2 linked regions of the Homo sapiens genome follow. The protein of the gene in region 2 interacts with the protein of the main gene of each other region in a pairwise test. Each region holds a gene or a part of one and is shown on either strand. Other genes may lie near its edges. The genes, in order: RNASEH2B and ZMYM3.

Evidence for each region.
Region 1: the proteins of ZMYM3 (region 2) and RNASEH2B interact in binary tests that used the Homo sapiens proteins (3 or more experiments, as listed by UniProt).

What each region holds. Positions count from the first base shown.
Region 1 is NC_000013.11:50,940,543-50,947,832, reverse strand, and holds part of RNASEH2B (ribonuclease H2 subunit B), read right to left. Parts: intron 5,983-7,290; exon of another isoform or gene 5,807-5,982; coding exon of another isoform or gene 5,779-5,806; intron 4,513-5,778; coding exon 4,439-4,512; intron 2,407-4,438; coding exon 2,301-2,406; intron 1-2,300. UniProt on the Homo sapiens protein: Non catalytic subunit of RNase H2, an endonuclease that specifically degrades the RNA of RNA:DNA hybrids. Participates in DNA replication, possibly by mediating the removal of lagging-strand Okazaki fragment RNA primers during DNA replication.
Region 2 is NC_000023.11:71,238,968-71,244,274, forward strand, and holds the end of ZMYM3 (zinc finger MYM-type protein 3), read right to left. Parts: intron 5,014-5,307; coding exon 4,862-5,013; intron 4,118-4,861; coding exon 4,003-4,117; intron 3,458-4,002; coding exon 3,203-3,457; intron 2,378-3,202; coding exon 2,260-2,377; intron 2,142-2,259; coding exon 1,949-2,141; 3' UTR 657-1,948; downstream 1-656. UniProt on the Homo sapiens protein: Plays a role in the regulation of cell morphology and cytoskeletal organization.

The sequences.
Region 1 (7,290 bases), on a different chromosome or scaffold from region 2:
GATAGTAATATCTATCGGTCAGACTAGTGGGAAGATATGAGGGATGAGATATGACATGTGATGATACCAAAGATATAAGATAAAACAAGTATAATACAGTAGATGCTCCCTAAATGACATTAAAAACAAAAACTCAGGGTTGCTTTCTTATTTGAAACCACTGAATACAAATAAAGTTTAAAAATCATCTACAACAATATGAAATAGTCATGTCTTTTTTAAAAGGGTAATCTTTTCTAAGCCTGCTTCAATAAAGAATAAATCTAATTATTCAACAGTAATGAGTGTACTCATTTAAGAGAAATAAAATACCATGTCTCTACTACTAGGTATTTGCTTTATAAGAACCCTGAAATATATATATATAGTTCTATACATACATATTGTTCTATATACATAGTTCTACATACACACACACACACACACACACACACACACACACACACTCCCAAACTAATAAAATACTTAAACTTAAACAACTAACTCAGCAGAATTTATCATCATTAATTCTAAAGCATTTGGATTCTCAGTACTAAAATGCAGCTCTGGCAGCAATTAGAAATACAGTTACATAAGAAGACAATAAAATGTTTCAAAACTCTGTTCCTGAATTCAGTATTTTATGTAGAATACAAGCAGATAATCAAACTTAATCATAAGATGGGATAACCACGTGGGGATATAAAGCACCAAAAGCAGACCCCAGGTTTGCTGCTGGGATATTCACTCACTTCCTTTTTTCCATTCTCCTCTGCTCTCAAGTCAAAGTAACAATTTGCCTCAGTATTACATAGAAAATGACTGCCGTCTGGGGACCACCTGATGTCAAAAAGTCTTCAGTAAGAGATTTTCATTGTCAATGGAGAACTGAAAGTTATCATTTGACCCTTCTTAAAATTGCTCATGGATCTGGGATAGTCATTATCCAATGAGTCATGACTAGACCAAGAAAACTATTTTAAGAAAGTCAACATATAGTTCATTTGCTGCTTCTGGTACCAAACCAACCTAAATATCTAAAAAATGAAATAATGTAAAATATGTAAAGTTTACTTTATGGTCAGGACACTAAATGGCAATATAGCCAAGCCCAGAACCTTAATATGTAGAGTACTGGTAAAAGCACTAGACTTAGAACAGAAGATCTTGAGGATAAGTTACCTACCTCTCCATTTAAAAAATGAGATGATCTGTCTAAATAACCTCTAACATCCCTTCTCCTACTTTTAAAACAAAATCTATGGTTCCATCCATCCATCCATGGATGCATCTATCCACCCACCTATCTATCCATTAATCATCTATCTCAATCCCTCATCTTCTATTGTTAAAGCCAATTAAAGACACTGACAGCTGGTAACTCAGTATGGCAAAGGTGCTGTCCACCACTCCCAGAATGGCAGTAGCCAACTACCTATACATGCAAGGTAGATTCCTGCAAATCAGATTGCCTGAATTACTATCAATCACAAACAGGCCACTATTCCTAGTTTTTATTTATGTAATGACTAAAGCCATATGTATACCCTGAATAAGGGAACAATGAATTGGAGTTTAACGTCAGAATAATTTCTGTCTCACCATTTGAGATTGTTAACTGCATTATATAGCTGTTCTTATTCAACTATACATATAAAAATAAGAGGACTCTACTTGGAAAAGAAAATAATATACCTTTTTTAGATTATAAAAGAATAACCTAAAAGAAAAATTGCCAAGTAAATCAATTTTCATCTAAAATCAAAATATATTGATCCCTGTATCAGGAAACATGCATCTTGAGAAGAAAATGCAAACAGATGCAGCCACTGGAACAGTACAACTGTGCCACAGGAACAGTATCACAAAAAGATTACAAGTGTGGGCTTCAGAGACAAGCTCCATAAGTAGCTCAGCTTTGGCATTTACTAGTTGTGAGACTTTGCACAGGGCCTCAAGATGCTCATTATGAAATTTACTGGGAGGGTTGGATGAGATCATGTTTGTATAGTGGCAACTTAGCAAAGGGCCTGGCACACAATACACCCTCAATAAATGATAGCCAGGGTTGTTACTACTATCAATGTAAAAGAAATATTTGCTGAATAAATAACTTAAGTATCAATGAATGACAGAAGTAACCTATGGTAGAAATATTCTTCGCTTCTGAAATAAGATGCACACCTGCCACAATGTGTATGAGGCATTGGTAGGAATATGAGGCTTCTGTGATATTAAGATTTTTAAATCCTAAGATAGGCATTTACACATAAGCAACTTACTCCAGACAAAAATCTTTTCTGATAAAATGCTTTACTTACCTTCCTTGTCAGTGGAAGCTTGGTCACCAGAGAAAAATGCAGTTGACTGTACCCGGGAACTGACATTCACATTATTGGTTTTTAATGCTGCCACAGTTTGATTAACCTATGAAGCAACCAAGAGGGGAAAGGCAGGGTATTTTCAACTTAACTTTAGAAATCTATGAATTCATAGGTGGCCTTCAGACCATTTAAGAGATCTGCAAAGAAGTATTTGAGAACCTAGAAGTATCTTCACCAGACACCAGAAGATGAGAAATGGTTGCCCATTTGAAGAAAGGCTGAGTGGCAGCAATATCTGGATGATCTCAATACATGGACTTCCATGGCCTACACAATATGAGAAGGCAACATATTGTGATAACTGAGAGCTGACTCTGGAGTCAGGCTGCTGGGCTTGGCTCTGTAACCACGGCTAGTTACTTAACCTTTCTGTGGCTCTATCTGTGAAATGGGGGAAAAAAATAGCATTCACCTCATAAGACTACTGTGAAAATTAAATGAGGTAATATATGTAAATAAAGCCCTTACAATAGAACCTGGCACAAAATTTATATGTAATAACTTCCTAAATAGAATAATATAAATTTCCCACTTCCTAGGAAATATAATCAGTAAGTATAAACTCCTCTTCGCTATTCATGTCATTTTCCTTGGCTAAGAGCAAAAGTAAACATCAAGGATTCTGCTCCGCATTTATTCTCATTCTTCGCCTACATGGAATACTACTACTACTATATCACAAATAAAAAATGAAACATGGCACTCTAAATCTTTCCACTACTTTGCACATTAGGAGACTGATTATTCTACTGGACTCATTTCCAGCTTCCCAGGCTTTCAATGAGCCTGGTAACATGGTATGACAAATAAACACAATTTATTTATTATTTATTATTATTTATTTTTATTTATTATACTTTAAGTTCTGGGATACATGTGCAGAACATGCAGGTTTGTCATACAGGTATACATGTACCACAGTGGTTTGCTGCACCCATCAACCCATCATCTAGGTTTTAAGCCCCACATGTATTACATATTTGTCCTAATGCTCTCCCTCCTCTTGCCCCTAACCCCCGAAACAGCCCCGGTGTGTGATGTTCCCCTCCCTGTGTTCATGTGTTCTTACTGTTCAACTCCCACTTATGAGAGAGAACATGCAGACAAACATGACTTTTCACACAAAAGATGGAAGAGAATCTTAGGAAACAGTACTACAACTACTGGTATCCACTGATCTTGCAAAAACTTTATCATTATTCTATATGGTTTAGCGAGATTCTTAATCAATGTGAAAGTACATATTATCCTTAGACCAGTGGCTTTCAAAGTTTTTTTTTTATCACAACCCATAGTAAGAAATATACAGCAACCCAATACTTAAACACATATAAATACATTTCACAGAGCCATACTTAATACCTGCCCTTCCTCTGCTATATTTTAACCCATCCCATCCCATCCCGTCCCATCCCATCCCGTCCCGTCCCATCACGTCCCGTCCGTCCCGTCCCATCCCATCCCGTCCTGTCCCGTCCCATCCCATCACAATCTGTTTCATTCCAAGAGAAATACTGGTTGTTACCTACTAAATTGATTTGAAATTCACTGCCCCAGTCCATCCATTAGGTCAAGATTCTTAGAATCACTAAGATACAGGGTTTGCCTGTAAGATGACCCCTCATCAGTGTCCAGACCCTGAGAGCAGGACATACTTCCTCTAAACCTGAACACCTTTGCCTGGCTGTGTCCCTGGGTCCCTTTGCCTGGCTGTGTGTAAGCATCACCCTTGGAGACACCTGCAGGACTGACAGTGGCCAACAAGTGCCAAGCCTGGTATCCTCTTACTTGGAAGACTCAAATCTACACCAACAAATTATTTCATTCCGTAGTAGGAGCAGGGAGAAACGAGAATGCAGGTCACAAGAAAACATAAAGCTAACTTCAGAGATACAGAAGTTAGGGAGGATTAAAAAGTCAAAGCCTTCTTCTCATACTTGGTATCTCTACACAATTTTCCTCTTTTCACTGAATATACAAGATGGTCTCTGGATTCAGACTTACTGCCTTCTCTGAAAATTTCTTAGAGAACTGAATTTTTACTTTTACCACAAGGCACTAGAGAGGAACTATACCTTTTTTTCCAGCCACTTTAATGTCTTCTCTTTGCTGTACTTGTAATATTTCTTGTTGTCTATTTCTGGATTACCTTAAAAGAAAAAAAAGACTCAGCACAATGAATTAAAAAAAAAATAAACTCCTAAGGTTGTATCATATACAAGTTAACCATTTAAAGAATATTTTGTAAGTTTAAATTCTTGAAAAGCTTAATTTACAAACCTGAGAACATACTTGAAATGTTTTTTTAAATGTTAGTAGTAATGTGGCTACCTCAGGAGTCATCAACCACTAAATGAGTAAGAATTTAAGAAAACCTTCAAATTATACAAACAACTCTGTAGAAAAGGTAATTTTAAAACCTCAGCAAACTAATGTGAAAGGAAAATAATCTTGTTGATAGGGACAGGAGGCAGGGAAATTCTGGGCAGAAGAGGGCCGGTCCCTAGCAATGGCTCCACACTCAAGCCAGACTACATTGTGTATTCAGTGGAAGGCTGATCAAAAGAATGCCACCTTTTGTCTCCTATCTATGTCTAACGTGGAAACCCCCACTTTGAGTTGTTGCTGCCTTACTGGACTAAACCAATGTACATCTTACACATATTGATTGATGTCTCATGTCTCCCTGAAATACATAAAAGCAAACTGTACCCCCAACCACCGTGGGGCACATGTCTCAGGACTTCCTGAGGCTGTGTCATGGGTGCATCTTTAACTTTGGTAAAATAAACTTTCCTAAATTGACTGAGACCTGTCTCAGATATTTTGTGTTCACATTAGCATACTAAGCAGTCTTAACTGTTCTGAATAATTTTAAGCTCACCTCAATGTTTTCAATGAACCACTTTTTTTCTTAAAATAAAAATGAAAATCCCAATAAAGAAAATTGAAACGAAATGCAGGTATCTATGAAGTTCACTACATACATTCAGGAAAAAAATCTTGTTAACTACTCAGTAGTGGCCTGGTATTGGGGATTGGGGGAGCATTAAAAAAAGATCTATCTATCTTTTAACATATTACCAACATAATCATAGCTATTTGAGAAGATTTAGATTTATGGTAGGCTCAATCTGGCCCTTTATGGAGATAAAAGTTTCACCTCTTATAAATTACACTTAACTTCCCCACAATCCACCCAGCCTTATATACCATGACATTAAACCATGATTTCCTCTGCAACCCTTTTCATTCATGGGATTTCTTCTGTCTGTGCAATTAGCAAGGGCAGCACTTCTATTCCAGCCTCCTCTGTCCATGCAGGATTTATCTTTATGACCACTAGCAACCCTTGGGCCTGATGTGAATTTACCACCTCTGAGTTATATAGAATGAGGCTCTTTCTCCCTCCCACCTTTTGATGGGAAATGAAAACTGCCCATTCAGGGTTCATTTTCTGCAGTCTGTTAAACTGTATGGGAGAGAGGTTGGGAGGTCCCTGGCCTTAGTTCCTGTGAATTTCCTCTCTGTTTCAGCCTATGGTTGTCAATGCTGCAGGCAAGATGAGGCAGGATGGATTGGGGGCTGGACATCTGCAGCCATCTTCTCAGGACATGTCACTACAGTAACAAAAAAGAGGGACAGGTGCAAAAGCATTGTCAGGAGTGTCAGAATTCCAAGGTGCAATGTCTGCTGTTTTGGAGCCAGGACTACCTGGGCAAACAGCCTACTGTAAGCCAAAGCCAATGAGACCGGACTCAATTTCCCTGGAGCCCATGTCCCAACCGATGTACAAACCAGGGGAATTTTAAGAGCATACAGCAATCACTAAATAAATATATGACGCTGAATGGCTTTTAGAAGTTATGTTCATTGCCTGAGGAAAAAAAAACTCCAAAAGAAGCTCACTGCTCAAGGTTCTCCTGAAAATCCTACCCTGATCTGGCATCTCACTTCTTTCTTGCCTCTACCTCCAAATTTTCTCAAAGAATGTCTACCATCTGCTGCTGTTTTCCTTCCTGTCTCCCACTCCCTGAGCCCCACTAGGAGGCTTCTCCTCTACCTCTGGGAATTATTCTCTAAGAAGGGGCAGAGAGCACAGACTGAGCCATGCTACCAGGGCTCATGCATACCCCAGCACATGCTGTCTCCTTGGGAAGCCGCCTCGTGCTCAAAGCCTGTTCCCCCATGTGTAAAGAGAGGTTTTTTTCTCACTGGGCTATTCTGAGCATGAAATGTGATAATCCATACAAATCCTAGAGCACAACACCTGCCACTTAGCAAATACATAATATTAGCTAAGATATTGTGATGAAAAATATGATTTGTTAATAAAACATAAGAAACTAATGTTTATTCAGGTCTGTGCTAGGCACATTTTATACATTTTCTTATTGAATGATCAGAATGAATCTCAGAATCAATTAATAAACCATGATTTGTCCCCATCTTCGAAGACTGGCTCTGAGTGACATGAAGTAAACTCTCCTAAGTCACTGAGGAAGTAGGCAAGAGCACCCAACTCCCAACCATGCTGACATCAAAGCTGTGGATCTGATGTTCACTTTACCAAGATCACTAGGTCTGCACTTTCCTCAGTACCTCCTAACAACCTCTCCTCCATGGCATATATAAAATTGCTTTCTATTTTTTTATGTCTCTAATGACTTATCTGATTCTTTTCCCAGCTCTGCTTCACCCTCCTCCAAAGTCAACTGTATCCTTTCATCTGGTGTGATCTCCTCCTAGATCAACAAGACTAAACAAACTAACCGGGAGGCCCAAAGCCCTGAACTAAGCCTCCATGTGTCTAAAACCCAGTGGTTCATCTTCCTCCTACACCACTCTCCTGAATATCGAGGCCTAAACCTCAGAGCCAGTGCTCACACTGGCCTTGCCTCCCACATTCCATCTCTCCATCCCATGG
Region 2 (5,307 bases):
ACCTCGCCTCCCAGGCTCAAACGATCCTCCTCAGCCTCAGCTTCCTCAATAGCTGTGATTACTGGTGTGCGTCACCATGCCCAGTTAATTCTTGTATTTTTGTTAGAGATGGGGTTTTGCCATGTTGCCCAGGCTAGTCTTGAACTCCTGGGTTCAAGGAATCCTCCCACCTTGGCCTCCCAAAGTACTGGGATTACAGACGCAAGCCACTGCACCCAGCCTCCCTGTAAACCTGAAGTGAGTTATTTATTCCTCTGTCCTCCCATAGCACTATTCATTTTATTCTGCCTGTATTATGACTAATTGTGTACTATTTGGTCTCCCCTATAGCCTGGGAGCCTGCTGGGGATTGGATCCTGGTCTAACCAGTCTTTTTGTATTTTTTGAAGCACGTAATCTAGGTCTTTAAACATAATAGGTCCTTAATACATAGCTAGTGAGTGAGTATTTTTTTTTCCTTAAGTGTTTGGAAACTTGTTATAAAAAAAAAACAAAAACAAAAACAAAAAAAACAAAAAAAACACCACATTCCCAGTAGATCCAAAGTAAGACAGTAAAGTAAGAACGATTCTCAAACACCTGACTTGTTTACACTTGGAGAGATTTGAAGTTATCCAGTGTTGCTCCTCTATATCCATCACCCAGAAAAGACAAAAGACAATTTTAACTCTTTATTTGAAACAAACAATTTCAGAGACAGAAGGTTAGTCGTGACAACAGCTTCTCACTACAACACAAGGGTGGGCATGGCTCACTGAAGGGACAGGCCAGGCGCCTCAGAACAATATATACAATTTAAACAGTGGCTAACTGGTGACAGTTATAAAAACACAAAAAGGAGCCTGGGAAACAGCAAAGTCAACAGGGAAAGAAGTGGGTACCCCCTTTGCCAGAAGCTAATTGTTTTCTGGGACCTCCAATGCAAGATGGGGAAGAGAGAAGATGTAGGCAGTGGCGGCAGGCCCTGCGCCCACAGCTCCTCGCCTGTCCTTTGACCACAGATCCCATCCTGCATGACTCAAGGTCCCATAGGCTTGGCCTAGCTCTTATGATAGGGGAACAATAGAGGGGAACCCAGCCTCAACCCAAGTCAGAAGGTAGTTTTTGCCTTGGGAGGTCTGTCCATTGAACTAAAGGGAGGCAGTTACAGAGGGGGCTAAGCATGTTGACACCATGGCTCATGGCAACCTAAGATGGCAGAGAGACAAACACAGAAACCAAGGGGACAGGAGTCTGCACAACAGGAGTCTGCTCCCCGTACTTAGTCATTCTCTGCCTCTGAGGAAAAAAAGGCATTTGGAAGATTTTAAAAACGGCAGCACCAAGGATTGGTGCTTGCCGAGGGGGTGAGGGATATGCGGTGGTGAGATGGTGCCAACAACCAATTATTTCATAGGAGGGGAAGAGTGTCTAAGCTCTGTGTTTTATGTAAATGGTCCCCTCATCGCTTTCATTGTTTATTTCTTACCTTTCAGATAAGACCTTTTGGCATGGTGCTGGGGAAGAGTAGAGAAGGGAGTGGGCACAGGGCAGAGAAGGCAGCTGGGTTTTTCCCTAGGTCATGCCTAGGAACAAGAGGCTCTACCTATGCGGGATGGGTCAGGAAACCCAAAGCCAACAGGATCACCAGAGCTATTAACACTCCACCCAGAGTCTGGACCCAGAAGGAGGGGTTTACTCTGAAGCATAAAGAAAACGGGCAAGCTGGCTTTTGCCCATCACTGGGAGACCAGCCCCTGAGTACAGAAGACCAGGGCCCCATGGTTGTCAAGTGGTACGGAAGAAGATAAAAGCCAGGGTTCCTAGAGAAGGCAGGGAATGGGTGAGCGGAAAGGAGCAGTCAGGGCCCTTCAGAATGAGTAGCATTGGTTCCTGGGCCTGTCACCCTGAGGGACATGGCCACAGGACAGACATTGATGTGAAAGATGGATATGGATGGCACACGAGCTCAGTCCAGGTCTTCCTCCCCAGGACGACCCAGTTCCTCATAAATCTCGCGCACAGCCAGGATGCGATTGAGCATGCTCTCCAACATGCTGCGGTCCATGGGGATCACAGAATACCAGAGAGGTGACTCGGCGATGCAGGACCGTTCAGGTTGCAGGTAGAACACATCGTTGCGAGTCCGGAGGCTTTCAGGACTGCAACATCGGGGGTGGGAGTGGGAGTGGGGGTGGCAGGACAGAAGATCAGTACCAAGGCAAAGTAGATCCCTCGGGTCCCCATGCTAACGCTTTTCCTGCCAACCCACCAACTCACCATTTTGAGAGATAGAATTCATAGAACTTGACAGGGCAGCGGAGGGGATTCATGCGGTTCTCACGCTGCTCTAAGATAGGGGCTTCATCTTCTCTCTTCCGTTTTCCAGGACCCGTGTCTATAGGGGAGGGAAATGATTCAGACTCATTAAGAACACAGGCTCCATGAGCCACATCCAAGAGCACAGTTCAGGGCACAGGGAGAAGGCGTCACGACACAAATTACAGTCTCATCAAGATGGAGAGGTGGAAGAAGAGGTCAGTCTCCCTCTCCCACGCCAACCCAACATCCTGTCGGGCTGTTGTTATGCAACCCTCCCCAGTTCCCACTGCCAAAGACTCTCTTTAAAATCTCCCCCAAGTTGCTATCTTGAAGAGGTGATCTCAGAAGTTATTCAAAAGACCTGATAAAACAGACCCTACTGCAAGGGTGGGCTTGCCTTCTGGGATAGAGAAACAGCAATGACCCCAACCCCTTGTGCATTAGTCCAGGTAGAAGCATGGGTCCAGAGAAAGGACCTTGGAAACTTCACTCAGACAGGACAGAAGTCCAGGGACAGAAAAAATGGAAACCAAGGTGCAGTTGTTGTTAGACCCGATAGCAAAGAATCACAGAAAGCCTGTCATTCTACCCTCCCCGACAGCCAAACACACCCAATGGTTTCCTACCTGTCCACCACCCAGAAAAAGCAGGCAAGCAAGTAAACTGTCTTAAATGAGGAAAGAGGGGAAACAGGCCAGAGGGTGACCTCTTATTTATGCAACAGCTACTGCCTATCAGGTAGGAGGACTGGCTGTTTCTACCCTTTCTGCACACAGGAACAGGAGAGGGAAGCTAGGCGCCAAGGAGAGGGCCGACCTGGCAGGTATGGTGGGTTATGGCAGGGCATGGAAGGGGAAGGCAGAGAAGGGGCAAAAGCACAGGGGAGGGGGCAGCCTCGTACCTCGCCCTTTCCTCTGGCGGACTGGGGCATAGTAGCGGATGCTCACCACCTTGGTGGTGCCCCGAGGGGTGGTACACTTGCGGGACTGCCGCACCACATTGGTGAAGGAGAGTTGCATGTGTTCCTCAGCTGTCTGCAGCCCAAAAAACTTAGTGTTGAAGAACATGAGGGTGTTGAGGAGGACAAAGGGCGAGTAGACCCCCAGTTGCTTACACTCCCAGAGGTGCTCCTCCTCCACTCGAGAGAACACCGTATCTACAATGGTCAAGGGGGAGAGGCCAGTCAGGAGGGAGTGGCTACCCAAACCCAACCACTTCCCATCCCATGTGCCCTGCTCATTTCCCACACAATTCTCATTTGGTGAGTAACCTTTGTATATAAAACACTGTCACTTCGCTACACTTGCTACACTACACAGTGGGACTGGGCTTTAAAAAATATATACTTTCCACACCTGCATTTGGAACGCCTCTCACCACCCTCAAGTTGTAGACAAGTAAATGTAAACCTTGAGGAGTCCCACGATTTCTTGCTTTCTTTCTTTACTTACCACCCAAACCCAGGCCATCTTTTTCTGGTCCTAGAGATAGCTCTTCAGACCTAAGTCTTGATCCCCATCTCACGTTCAAGAACAGGCGCTCCTGTGCTCCTTTAACTCTAAACCCTGAGGCATCCAGCTACACGCTCCTGCCCTCGGGCCCTTTGTGAAGAGTGGCAGACCAAACAGCACAGGACTCTCGGGATGGTGGATTGGAAGAATGGAGAAAGCGGGTAGGGGTTGCTACGTCCCTGTTCCTTACTGTTGGGGAGGAGTGTGGGCTGCCAGGTACTCAGAGACTTGTTGAGTTCTTGAACAAAAGTCAGGTAGTAAAGGTCCGTGAAAATGTTCACCATCCGGTTATTTTCCAGCAAGTACTGGGGAAAGAAAAACAGACACACCTAAGGCTAGACTGTAGGTCCTAGAAGAAAGATAATGATGCTGAAGCCCCCAGGTATGGTGTCCTTGATCATTAGGAGACGATGGGAAACAGTTGCTTGATTAGGTGGCCTCGAGTGCTTTCCCCCAGGTATACCCACAGCTCTGCGCTACTCAGGCTTTGCTCGAAGAGGAGGAGGCTTGGAGGAGATGTTCTTTAGAAGCCCACACCTCCTTCTCAGGTAATACATGGTTGACTTCTCCCAGGGGGAACTAAACATTACCCCAGCACTCAAGGATCCCAGCTCCACCCATCCCTCCCCTCCTAGAATGGGCTTAAAGATTACAAAGGGGACCTGGATAGCAATGAAGACTGCTCCTTGGCCAACGGTCCTGGAATGCAGTTTTGATTTTAGAAGAGTATTGATATCTCATGTTCTATTTGGAGTAGGAGATTAAAGGCAAGCTGCCTGCTTCAGGTAGGGGACAAGATGAGGAACAGGGAGTGCAACAGAATAACTGCTTTTTTTTTTCATTAAAAAAATATTTTTTGGGTAGATGGGTATCACTTTGTTGCCCAGGCTGGTCTCAAACTCCTGGCTTGAAGCGATCCTCCTGCCTCAGCCTCCCAAAGTGTTGGGATTACAGGCGTGAGCCACCGTGCCTAACCCAGAATCATTTCTGTTTAGACCCTGCCTGCTGTGTTAAGAGTGACAGGAAGTGAGGTGGTGCACAAGAGGTACCTGCTGGATGCCAAGACACAAATAGTAGATACTGTCAGGTTCATATCGTTCACCATTGGGCCGAGTGATTTCTCTCACAAACTGGGCCAGACCGTAGTTGAGCTCAGCAGCTGAGCAGGCGAGAATATCCTCTTTGATACGCATGGGTTTGGCTGCAGTGATATGTTGTGCAGGGACAGGATTAAGAAAAACTCTACATGGAGAATTTCACTTAGCTCCATCACCATTAACCCCTCCATCCCTTAGTCATGCCTAGCTCCTGAACAATTACAGAAAGAGCCCCTAACCTGGAACCTAGACAGCATTTCCCTTTAATCTACAACTCCTCCCCATCTTCACAGGGCATCCTTAAGGGATCACACCCTTATCACTTCTAGACATCTTCAGCTGAATCACAGGCCCAGCCCCTTCTCCCCTTTCCCCTCCTCCTCCCTGTCCCTGCCTCC